Regions from separate parts of the Homo sapiens genome. Here regions 1, 3 and 4 are each reported to be linked to region 2. The links are microRNA targets in miRTarBase. Many come from high-throughput screens and were not tested one by one. Region 2 holds a microRNA gene; each other region holds the end of a gene's coding sequence.

Region 1 (3,190 bases), not on the chromosome of region 2:
ATTGTAAAGGTAAAATTCATTTCAGTTACTGCTGTCCATATGAATATTCCACACTGGTTCTTGTTTAATGAAATGTCACTGGCATTAAAAAAAAAAAAAGAAAAGTATGCCACTATTTTCTGAAAATAAAATATCCCAAGATGCTTATAGATGACAGAGAACCACAGTTAAGTTCCTGATCATTTAAAACTCCCCACCAGATAAAAACACCACAAATAGCCATCTTTTGCCTTCATGTCTTGAGCAAAGCGTAAGTATATGGAAGAAAACAGACAAATACATACCTTACCTGGCCTGACTCATGCTTGCAACTCAGCAGGACCACGCTGAACACTATAGGGCCAGAATGTGTGGACTTGTCTTTGCAGCTTTAAGATATTTAGTACATGACACATTTAACATCTTAAATAAGTTGAGCTCTTTTACACAGCAGTTTAATTTATGGGGGTTTGTTGAGTGGGTCTTAAGCAGTGCTAGCAAAGCTTAATGGACTTGCACTAACTATCCTTCCTCCCTTTCCTTTGTAGGATGCTATGCAAAGAACTTTGGGCCCAAGGGATTTGGCTATGGCCAAGGAGCAGGGGCTCTTGTTCATGCCCAGTAAGATGTAAACCCTGAACTAAACATCACACACTGAGAATCTCTTCATAATCTAGGCACAGATAATCTTTAACACTAAACTACTGTGAAATTCTACCAGCATTAAGTACTGTATATCGCCCTGTACTTGGATAGGCTGGCTAACTCGTAGGAAGAGAGCACTGTATGGTATCCTTTTGCTTTATTCACCAGCATTTTGGGGGAACATTTCTTTTACATTTTAAATAAAACTTCAGCTTGATTTGGGTGTTCATTGTCTTTTAATTAATCTTTTGGAGGAGATGCTCTGATTTCAGTTAGTGGAAAGTCATTTGGTTCCCTACCTTTGTTACCCCATTACCCAGCTGACTCACTAGGTTCATGTTTGCATTACAGCTGTTGAAAAGGATCTCTCTTTCAAGCAGGCAAGTGTGCCTTAAGAGTAAAGGTTGCAGGCCGGGCGCGGTAGCTTACGCCTGTAATCCCAGCACTTTGGGAGGCCGAGATGGGCAGATCACGAGGTCAGGAGATCGAGACCATCCTGGCTAACACGGTGAAACACCGTCTCTACTAAAACTACAAAAAAATTAGCCAGGCGTAGTGGCGGGCGTCTGTAGTCCCAGCTACTCGGGAGGCTGAGGCAGGAGAATGGCGTGAACCCGGGAGGTGGAGCTTGCAGTGAGCCGAGATCGTGCCATTGCACTCCAGCCTGGGCAACAGAGCGAGACTCCGTCTCAAAAAAAAAAAAAAAAAAAAAAAAAAAAGGTTGCTAGGCAACAGGCATCATTATTTCAGCTCCTCAAAGCTGGTGTTCAGCAGTGCAGCATCTCCTCCTTTCCCTCCCCACCGTACTCTTAAGTAAGTTCTTTTGATTATACCTAAAATTCAGTACAAACAAACACCTATGGGCAATTATAGAATCAGAGACTTAGTATGATTCTTTTTAAAGACTCTACACTGTGATCTAATAGATGGTGACCTACTAAGTCCTGGAAACTGGGGTGTTTCACACATTTTGATTCTGTATAAGTAGCAAAGAATGTTGCATTGTCTGGGCACATTCAGCTGGCTTAGGTAGAAGAGGAGCATTAGACTTTATAAGGTATGGTTTCATTATTCCCCCAGAAAGTTTAGTTCTTTACTAGAGATTCAATCCAACTCCCTCACCCCCAGGAGCAGGGTGTAATAGGTCTGTAATGTGTATTATTAGTAAAATTGAACCAGCCCGTGAACATATCTTAATCTTTTCCAAGGTTCATTTTAACATACTATACTGTGTGAGTCTCGCTCTCTTGCCCAGGTTGGAGTGCAATGGTGCGATCTCAGCTCACTGCAACCTCCACTTCCTGGGTTCCTGCGATTCTTGTGCTTCAGTCTCCTGAGCAGCAGGAACTACAGGCATGCTACTGCACCCAGCTAATTTTTTATTTTATTTTTTTTAGTAGAGATGGGGTTTCACCATGTTGTCCAGGCTGGTCTTGAACTCTTGGCCTCAAGTGACTCAACCACCTCGGCCTCCCAAAGTGCTGGGATTACAGGCATGCACTACCACGCCTGGCCAATATATTGCTTATTTTGAAAAAGCTAAAGGGGATATGGTATGTACGACATCAAAAAAAATAAATAAGCAGAAACAAAGTGGGAGGAAGTTGGTGGAGGGTGTACTGGGTGCTTATTTCACATCATAGCCTTGAGCAACTTCAGGTGTTTTATGAGGCATACCAGTTCCATCATGGTGGGGCAGGAGAGGTAGTTAAGCAGTCTAGGAAATAATTGGCAATCAAAGAGGCTGAAGGAGAGAAGTTATGGAATAACTTCTGATTCTGTATGTGGTAGAACATGTCCACAAATTCTTTGACCTTCCCATCAAATGATAGTCTAATTCCCCTCTCTTTGAATAAAGGCCCACCTTAGTGACTCATTCTTAGTATTTATTATTTTGGATAAGGCTAGGTTAGAAAAGACAATACAGCTTTTGCCCACCTCTTCCTCTTAGGATGCTTACTCTTGGAATTCAGCCACCATGTTCTGAGGAAGCCCTGACTACATGAGGAAACCACATGTAGGCATTATAGCTAAGGCCTCAGCTGAGAGCTCATTCAACAGCCAGTATCAACCATCAGGCATGTGAGTGAGGCAGCCTTCAGATTATTCTAGTCTCTGGTCTTTGAGCCATCCCAGCTGATCCCAGGTGGAGCAAAGTGAGCTATTCCTGTTACGCCCTGACCAAATTGCAGATCTACGAACAAAAATGTTTTAGACCACCAAAGTTTGGGGTAGTTTGTTAGCATTCCTACCATGTTTCCCAAACTCTACTGGAGTTGCTAGTAGATATTCAAGAGGAAAAACAATGTAAATGAAGTTTCCAGGTGACTGGTAATTTGAGATTTCTGTCTGGTAAAATAAAACAAGATATCCATTCATACTTTAAATCATTCTTGATTGAGAGCCATGGCAAAATAGCTACTCCAACACTGTGAGATTAGTTTCCAGAGGTTCCAGGAGTAGAAAAAGGAAATTGGCTTTGGGCCAGACTTGGGAGGAATCACTTGGTCATTTGGATGTAAGTCAGTAACCCCAAAGTAATCCGAATGCAGTATTAAAGTGCTGC
Region 2 (3,000 bases):
AAAAGAAAGTGCAAAAGCTCTTTATGTATTGATATGGAATGATTTCTACAAGTTCACAATCTTTTACCCCTTGTGCCCAAAAGTGTTTCAGAATTTTAGAAAGACAATACAGTTTATCCACTGTATTTTATGGTATATCTCCAGCACCCTAGAGCCACACACATGTAATTAGTTCTACAATAAAGTATGCTTAGTCACAGAAATGGAAAAATTAGGCCAGGCACAGTGGCTCATGCCTGTAATCCCAGTACTTTCGGAGGCCGAGGCAGGCAGATCACCTGAGGCCAGGAATTTAAGACCAGCCTGGCCAACATGGCAAAACCCCATCTCCACTAAAAATACAAAAATTAGGCAGGTGTGGTGGTGCGTGCCTGTAGAACCAGCTACTTGGGAGGCTGAGGTAGGAGAGTTGCTTGAACCCGGGAGGTGGAGGTTGTGGTGAGCCAAGATCATGCCCCTGCACTCCAGCCTGGGTGACAGAGCAAGACTCTTGTCTTTAAAAAAAAAAAAAAGAAAACAAAAGAAAAATTAAGAATACAAACAGCTTTGTAAGTCAGATTCTACTTCGAGGTAAGTATGTCTCCCAACTTAGAAAAGCAACCTTTTTGTTATTAGAGCTTTTTGGATTTTTAAATTGTGGTTAAGAGGTTGTTGGATTGGTGATAAGTGGGAGGCACAGGGGAGCCAGATGCAGAACGGTGCGCTGTGCTGGCTTTTTAATCCATCCATCACACTGGAGCCACGTGACTTTCATCAGCACTGATCTGACTGTGTCACTGGCTACATAAAACTTCAGTAAGCCAAACCTAACCCTGGCAGGACATGAGACCTGGCTGCAGGCATCCCCGAATTCCATTTGCCATGTTAGAACCATGGGGGATAGTTTGTGATTCCTTTATCCTGCTGCATCTCACAGCTGCAGGCCTTTGCATTTCTTCTTTGGACATCCGTGGAAATGATCTCATTCTCTTCCTGATGAACTCTGTGTCCTTCAGAGATCAGCTTTGACTTTGACCTTGTTACGTCTTTTGTATGATTTTGCCAAGCAAAATCAACTCACTCCTCCATTTATACCCATTACATTTTCCCCACCTTAGTCATGGCGCTGCGTGGTGGGACTCTCATCCATCTTCTGTTCCCTCCAGAATGTAAATATTAAGGGCTGAGCCTCTTGGCCTCAGTGTGCAGTTCATAGTAATCCCTGAATAAATGTTGAATGAAGTGCATAAGCCCCTGAAAAGAATTAAGTTCAGAATTTCTTCCTGAGGACTTGTTGTTTTGGCTTCTCTTAGGACTTTGCAGTCAGAATCTGCATTTCACAGATCATCCGTATTCTCTTGGATTTTTCATTTATGGAATACCGTTTGTTACATGTAACCGCTGTGACTTGAACACTGAGCCACACTGTGGATTTTGCCATCATGGTGCAGAGTTAGGAGAAAGGCTCTGGAGTCATCTCTGGACTTGAATCTCCTTGACGCTTACTGTTTTTCTTTTCTTTCTTTCTTTCTTTTTCTTTTTCTTTCTTTTTTTTTTTGATGTGGAGTCTTGCTCTGTTGCCCAGGCTGGAGTACAGTGGCGCAATCTTGGCTCATGCAGCCTCCGCCTCCTGGGTTTAAGTGATTTTTGTGCCTCAGCCTCCTGAGTAGCTGGGATTACAGGCGTGCGCCACCATGCCTGGCTAATTTTTGTATTTTTTAGTAGAGATGGGGTTTCACCATGTTGGCCAGGCTGGTCTCAAACTCCTGTCCTCAGGTGATCCTCCTGTCTCAGCCTCCCAAAGTGTTGGGATTACAGGCATGAGCCACTGTGCCCGGCATGATGCTTATTCTTTATAGATCCTTGCACACGTTACTTAACCTTTTGAACCTCAGCTTCATCGTCTCTAAAATGGGCATAAGTAGCAACTGCGTGGTCGTTTTATTGTGAGGATTCAGTGAACTGATCAAGAAGGGTAAAGCACACAGCAGAGTGTGCCAGCTCGCTGAGTGGTAAATAATTCTCTCCTTCTCTTTCACCCTCCTCCCCTCTTCCTCCTGAGCTATTTGGCTTGATCTGACAGCCTCAGATTGTCTTAGAGATTTAGGTTTTAATATCATTGCTTGTTTGGGTCACTCTGCTTATTTTTTTTATCCCAAGGAGGAGCTTCAAAGTCACTGTTTACTTGAATTTCTTACAAACATAAATCTCTCTCCTTTTTTTTCCTGCAGATATGTCAGGCCTCATTCTACCTTCTGAGCCTTGGAAGGTAGAAAGAGGCCTGATAATCTCTACAGAAAGGCAACATGGGAGAGGGATTTTTATGTTCATCAGCACATTTTTATATATGATAATTCTTCACTCAGAGATTTAAAATTAAGATGAAGGGTCCTTACAGTACTCAGATCAAGAATCCTGGGGCATTTGTACAGAGGATTGGGCTTAAGGTTGTCTATCTTAAATATTGTCTGTTTTTGGGAGAGCAGAGGATATCCTTTTTAATTACTCCCAGCAGTGCTGTTGAGATTCTCAGATACAGGAATTATTATGATGATTTTGATGATGTAAGACTCTTTTGCTTTTTGGGAACATTTGTTATCTCTGTATAGAATAGAGACAGATAACTGACTCTACTGGGAGCCTCATTATCTCTTCTGGGTGAATAGAGACCAGTGTGAGGCAGAAATAAGATCCCTAAAGCTCAGAAAATATCTCCAAAAGTCTCTTTGCTAATTTTGAGCCCCTTAGAAATGAGCTCTGTAATTCCTGGGGACCTTTTCCTCTTCTCCATTCTTCCTCTGCTCCTTGACAAGAGATCTGTAGACTTCCTTGAGTGCAGCATCTCAGACATCTGGTATTGACTAGAATTCCTTATTGGACTTCCTTGAGTGTAGCATCTCAGACATCTAGTATTGGCTAGAATTCCTTATTGGTAGTGTCAGTGTCCAGGGCTTCCTATTTTGTAAATGATAGAGGTTTGTAAAAGGAGTATGGCCTTTGGAATGTGCTGTTCATAATCTT
Region 3 (3,190 bases), not on the chromosome of region 2:
GTTAAACAGGCATAACACCTGTCATCGAAACTTGTGAACATTACAAATGATGTATTTAAAGCACCTACCTCAGTGACTGGCATGTAGCAGGTACAAAATAAATGTTAGCTTTAAAAGGTATTTTAATCAATTTTATTATTCCCAGGGCTTCAGCAGACAGTAAGTTTTTCCCTTTACACTCCTTTTATTTTTTTTAATCTGACTTAATATTAAATGCTATATTTATAGGAGGCATTTTATGTTTAATTTAAAAGTAAAAGATGCAGAAATGATTCTTGTAAGTTTGCTGTAGTTTGGTAATACCATTTCTTTGCTTTTAAATAACTAAACCCCAATATCAATCTGCTTGTCCTCCATTTCACCCCCAACAGGGTGTATACATGGGCTGGTTAACAGCATCTGGAAGTGGAGCCCGGATTCTTGGGCCTATGTTCATCAGCCAAGTGTATGCTCACTGGGGACCACGATGGGCATTCAGCCTGGTGTGTGGAATAATAGTGCTCACCATCACCCTCCTGGGAGTGGTTTACAAAAGACTCATTGCTCTTTCTGTAAGATATGGGAGGATTCAGGAATAAACTAGCTAAGACTGTGATGGAAACTACTTGCTGTGTGGCACTTCCTGGTCTAAAGCTCTGCTAGACAATTGCGGTGAGCCAGTCTCCAAGAATCAGACTACAGATATTGCAGATTTTGAAGAACAAGAACATATGTTGAATAACAGAGAGAATTCTACATGTCATTGTGAATAGTAGGTTATATAAAAACATACTAGATGATAATTTCCTTACCTCAGAAATGAAATATTATTCTTATAATACCTTTTTGTGGTTGCATGAACTAATGAGTGAATGGACAATGATGAATAAATGTGAAGCTGTATTCTTAATACCCACTGCAGAAGTGTCATTAAAATAATATACAGTGGAACCAGAAAGAGGGTTCTGTAAGAATTAGCCATAGCAGAACAAAATTATAGAATTTTAAATACCTCTACCCAAGTAGAGGTATTTTTATTCAGACACCTACTTTTTATTTATAAAAAAATGCATTTTCTATTATCAAGTTCACTTATGAAATAAAAATTATAACACATATTTTCCATTTAGCGTGCCTAACATCCTACCTTGCCTTCTATGAGTCTTTCTTCTAATACTACACCTCTGCCTTATTTTAGTTCAGGGTTTCACTAAGTAACCCCTACATTAATAAATGAGTATGGATAATGCTAATATTTGAGCAATACAGAGGATTAAGAGATCAAGATACTTCACTGCCTATTAGCCTAATAGGGATACCTACTTTCTTTCAAATGCCAAAAATTCACATTAGAAACATAATCCAGATATGTGTTATTTTATATATATATATACAAAACAGTAAATGGTTTCTTAAAATTATTGCTATTTTTCAACCCCCTTAAACTGGAGAAAAACATTTAATTAGTAAAACATTAATTAATTTACTTTAATTTTTCCCATCTCTCAGTAGTGGCGGGGAGGAACACAACAGTTTTCAATCTATGTCTGCATAGTTGTGTAGAGCTGCAGAATTTTAGTTGGATTTTTAATTTGGATGATCCCTGACAGCCCCAAACTAGTCAGGCTAATAAGTATTTGAGGCAAAATGGCTTTAATCTAACAATTTACTGAGTTTACCTGAAGTTGGCTAAATAACACTGTATGTTTAACTTCTACCTCTACATAAGTTGAATGCTGATAAAAGGAACTAGTAGATAACTATGTATATTGATAAGCACTGTTAAGAAAATGCAAAAATATTTCTAAACACTTTTCCAAATGTTTTCTACTTTAAGTTAGAAATAGTTTCAAATCTGAGAATAAACACTATATAATCTGCACTTTATAGGTTGGGTGCAGTGTCTCATGCCTGTAATCCCAGCACTTTGGAAGGCCAAGGCAGGAGGATTGCTTGAGGCCAGGAATTCAAGACCAGCCTGGGAAACAAAGTGAGACCCTGTCTTTACAAAAAATAAAAACAAAAATTTAAAACTGTATAATCTGCACTTTATGCTAAACTAGCTGTGCTCTTAAACTCAATTTTTTCAGCTCTAATAAAGGGCTTAATTTGATAGAATTATTCTACGATTAAATTTTGAAGACTGTTTTCACTCTCCTCTGCCGCCCATAGCAAGACTGCTTCCATAGATTTCTCAGAACCGTAGCCAGTTCTGGCTATTTGGTCAAGTCTGGGATCCCTCTTACCTGCTATTCTGCAGCTGCTTTCTCTGTCTTACATTTTTTGGGCCACGTCTAATCTTAAAGAGTAAACTCTACCCTTGGTTTGCATAGTGTGCATGACAAAAATAACAAGAATAATGGTAATGATGAAAATGATAAGAGCAAAATTTGTGGAGTGCTTTCCACATTCCAGGTAATGTGTAACATACAATTTAATTCTTACAGCAGTCTTATGGAGTGAAAATACTATTATGATTCCCGTTTTACAGATGAAAGAATGGAGGCACAGAAAAGTTACTTGTCTAAGTAACAGTCTATCCTTAAAGTCCACAGTCTTAACCACTTGATTTTTCATAGTGAGGAAAATATCCCAGAAAGTTGCAGTTTCAATTAATCACTAATTGTAGGGTAATTTAACTATACCAGTGAGTCCTACTAGCAGAAATATTTGGGCAACATAAGCCCACTGACTGGAGCTTTTGTCTTAGCATAATAACCTGTTTCCAGCAAGAATATAACAGAAAAAAGTTTCCCAGCTTTCAAAGGTTTATAATATTGATTAAAATTTAGATAAACTTAACCTTACACAAATGACTCTTACTTTCCTTTTTATTGAGAGCATTTTCTTTGGAGCATTTTCTTCTTTGGAGGATTATACCTTGCTCATCTTGGCACAAAAGAAGGCGAAAGGAAGTAACATGGGATTGGGAAAAGAGCAAGGAGATAAAGTTTGAGGAAAAAAAATCACCATGTTGATGTCTTCTTGAGTAGGCCAAGTTGCGTATAAAGAGAAAATGACAACAGGAGATTTTAAGGTATGATATATTGTTAAGAGTAGTACATATTTAAGAAGAGAAAATATGTTTTTGAAAACAAATTTAAACTTGAAAGGATGATTTTCATATTTTGAAGGGATTTATAACTTCACAAAGCATCTCCATTCTATCTTGTTCAGCTTTACATTTAAAAATAAACTCTTCTTGTTCATA
Region 4 (3,188 bases), not on the chromosome of region 2:
TTACTGCTCCCGACACCTTCCCCTCCTCCTCATCTTACCCCATGCCGGGCGATCGGAGCAGAAAAATTAAAACCTGTCTCTCCCGCCTCTTTTCTTCTGTGTGTCCTTTGGCAGCAGCAGCACGAAGGTTTTCCTCCTGCCCTGGGCCCAGTCGAGAAGAGGATTAAAGGACGCACCGGCTGGCCGCAGCAAGTCTGGGCGCTGGAGTTAAACCAGTGAGCCGAGGCCCGCGCCGAGGACCTGGCCAGGCCAGCCACTCCTGAAGCCCCGGGAGGAGAGGAAGGCAGCGGCGAACGCCAGGCTCTGGGCTCCGGCGACTGGTGCTACGCATCCCGCGGAGCTTCTGCTGAGCGCCGGCAGGTCGTCGGCTGCAACCACACACTTGGATCGCACGTGCAATGTCCTTTGATTTTTTTTAATACATTAAGAGAAAGAGAAATATATATATATCCACCCCCAGCCCAACCGAGGGCGGCCCTTGGCGGCAACATGCAAGAAGGAGGGACTGTCGAACCCAAGGGCTCAAAGACGCACTCTTCCACCCTTTTGGAGCGAATTTAGAACCTCAGCCCTATCTCCATTTCCCTATCTGGCTCTTTCTCTCTTGTCCCTCCATATGATCCGCCCCGACGCCGTCTTCTCTAATTAAAATGCAATAAGGAATCAATTCTTTTCTGCCTGAGAAAGAGAACCAGACGCAGGAAGATGAAAGGCTGCCCTTTGTTCTTCGAATCGTGGTGGTTTTATTTTATTTTTCTTTTTGTCGCTGCACTTCCTGTTTAGTTCCAAGGGAAACACTTTCTCTCTTTCTCTGTCTCTCTCTTTTCTTCCTTCTTTTCCTTCCTTTTTGTTTCTATCTAAATAAAAGCTTTCCCTGTGTTGGAAAGTTTTTATGTATTTAAACTACCTACCATGCCTGTTGTGCTCAGGTGTTTGTTCATCCTGCCATCCCCAACCCTTTTCTACCTCAAGTCTGTGTGACCACTCACAGCCCCCCTCCCTTCGCCAAAGCAGTGTCTATGCTCTTGATTAATAAAACATTTTCTGAAATCATCTGAAGCCTGTGTCATGTCTCAACCGGGGTCCCTCACCGACTCCCATGGCTTCTGCTAGGTGGAAAGCCTCTGTTCCTGCTCCTCTTCTTTTGATAAACACGAAACCAAACTTGAAATCAAGGGAAGCCGGCAGATAAAGAATGTATTTCAAGAACAAGAGCAAAGTTCTCTTTAGACTAGAACGGGAGGTGGGGGTAACTTATGGGAACGGGGAAGAACAAAAACGGAAACGAATTAGTCTCAGAGGGCCTGGGCTCGGGTTTTTGTGCGTTGAGTATTCGTGCTTGTCTGGAGGTTAGTATGCCCACTGGTGTCTGCAAAGAGTGGTTTGGAGTGTTTATTGGGAGGGAAGGGGGCCTAGCACACAGGTGAATCCTATCCCTGGGGCAGGGTAGCTCAGGAGAGGGGGTGTTGGTGGGGAATATGTTCATGTATGTGAAATTCTCAACATATAGATGTACATGTGACAGTGCAGCAACTCATACGGAGCCTGAGGCTGTGCAGGGGCCAACAAGGGTCTGCTTAGTACAGCTCCAAGCACACAGTAAGGACTTGACAAGTCACAGCAGCTATTATTATTTTATACCTGAGTAAAATAAGCTTGTGAGTGCTTATATGTTAAATTGAGGTATTTAGGTTTCTCTTTAGCAACGAAGCACTCGACAGAAGGTTGTGAGAGCATATGGATTTGTGCAAAGGGATGGGGTGTATGTGTGTATGCGTGCTCATTCGGGCACTTGTGCAGGAGAGCCAGTCTTTGTGTTCTCTCATGCGCACCCATGACTAGGTGTGGTGGGTATAAATTCGGTGCATTTGCCAAGGATCTTGGATGCGTATTGGGCTAAACTGGGGCGGGCAAACGCAGTGGTTTATACTTCCAGGAATAATAATGTACGAATACTTTGGTTGCGTGCAACTGTGTGCTAGGCACTGCGCTAAGCACTTCTGTGTCTCCCAACAGCTCCCATGGTTGCCCCACGGAGCGCACGCTCTGCAGCGCCTGAGGGTCTGCGGCGCTCACTGCGAAGGAGGAGGGGAGACCCGTGAGGCTGTCTTGGAACTTTCGCTCTGCGCACCTGGAGCCTGAGCGCTCGGCTTGGGAACAAGAAAGGAGACCTCAGGCAGCTCCGGGGCAGGGCCTCGTGGGGCACCAGGCGTGCCCCAGGCGCCTTGTCCCAGCGTCGGGGTGAATATGGGACCCCATTAGTCTTGGCTGTAAACACCGTAGCAGGGGCCGAGAGGCCACGCGGGCCTTTCCGGACGCGAAGGAGTTAATAAAAGGTGTTTTATGGGCGCTAGGAAACAGTGGGGGAGGTGTGAGCTTCTCTCTCTACTCTCGCCCCCCTACTTTTTTCTTTTTTCCCTCTCGCCACCCGCCGCCAGATCAAACAGGCCCGCGATTTAACTAGGGCAACACTTGGCGGTAATGAGCCTGTCCGACGCACCCCTTCCTCGGCCTCAGTACCCGGCCCGAGGCCCCAGGGCCCTTGGGGAGGAGCAGAGAGAAAAATCAAAGTTTCTTTCTTGTTGTTTTGTTTTTCTTTTCTTTACCTTCTTTCTTTCCGTTTCTTTCTGGGAGTCCGTTTAGAAATTCCGGCGCGCATGGAGAAACAGACTCAGGGAGGGAGGTGATCTAAGCCCCACAGCACGGAGGGAAGCTTATCTAGATTCGAACCCAGGACTCCAACTTCGCTCACACACAAACCTCTGGCTATACACAGGTCCCAGCTCCCAGGACTATTTTTAGCACCGTGAAGTATCCTAGGCACGGGAAGAATGCGCACCCTGGTCTAGCTTTCTTATAGCCGGGGAAAGAAGAGGGGGTGCTGAGGGAGACCCGCCAGCGGCCGCCAAAGCCAAGTCTGGCATAACCAGGCCTCTTCAGAAAACCCAATCCTGCTGGCCCCAAACCCTCTTTGGGAAGAGAGCCTTGGAGCCCTAAACTCGGTCTCAGAAACGTGCAGTCCCTGAACCCGGGAGCCGAGACGGAGCCGGCGCCCATTGAGAGGGTCACTGGATAGTCCCCCACTCTCCCCACGCCTGACTCCAGCGGCCTCCCACGCCCACGCCACATCCCCAGCTCCCACCGCACAGCTGGAAAAGCCGAGCACAGAGAACGGCTCGGAGCTGCCC

Evidence for each region. Region 2 holds the annotated microRNA hsa-miR-4650-3p (AGGUAGAAUGAGGCCUGACAU, at 2,213-2,233, opposite strand). A microRNA usually pairs through its seed, bases 2 to 8, with sites in the 3' UTR of a target mRNA and lowers its output. Matches are read on the target gene's strand: a 7mer-m8 pairs with bases 2 to 8, a 7mer-A1 pairs with bases 2 to 7 and ends in A, and an 8mer does both.
Region 1: the mRNA of CSRP2 is a reported target of hsa-miR-4650-3p. Seed matches in the 3' UTR shown: 8mer at 692-699.
Region 3: the mRNA of MFSD8 is a reported target of hsa-miR-4650-3p. Seed matches in the 3' UTR shown: 7mer-m8 at 1,692-1,698.
Region 4: the mRNA of HAND1 is a reported target of hsa-miR-4650-3p. Seed matches in the 3' UTR shown: 7mer-m8 at 961-967.

What each region holds. Positions count from the first base shown.
Region 1 is chr12:76,856,366-76,859,555 of GRCh38, reverse strand. CSRP2 (cysteine and glycine rich protein 2) reads left to right here. Exons shown (of 6, transcript NM_001321.3): 5 at 1-9; 6 at 528-847. The coding sequence ends at 604. Among named protein-coding and RNA genes, the nearest start is that of CSRP2, 21 kb to the left of the region's middle.
Region 2 is chr7:67,112,120-67,115,119 of GRCh38, forward strand. MIR4650-1 (microRNA 4650-1) reads right to left here and starts at 2,278; the gene lies at 2,203-2,278. The region is part of intron 12 of TYW1 (tRNA-yW synthesizing protein 1 homolog); the gene reads left to right. The region is part of intron 1 of LOC124901664 (a long non-coding RNA gene); the gene reads right to left.
Region 3 is chr4:127,918,018-127,921,207 of GRCh38, reverse strand. MFSD8 (major facilitator superfamily domain containing 8) reads left to right here. Exons shown (of 12, transcript NM_001371596.2): 12 at 372-3,190. The coding sequence ends at 578. Among named protein-coding and RNA genes, the nearest start is that of PLK4, 39 kb to the right of the region's middle.
Region 4 is chr5:154,472,837-154,476,024 of GRCh38, reverse strand. HAND1 (heart and neural crest derivatives expressed 1) reads left to right here. Exons shown (of 2, transcript NM_004821.3): 2 at 115-1,053. The coding sequence ends at 219. Among named protein-coding and RNA genes, the nearest start is that of HAND1, 3.8 kb to the left of the region's middle. RefSeq lists a silencer at 133-320 and enhancers at 1,649-2,620, 2,621-3,188.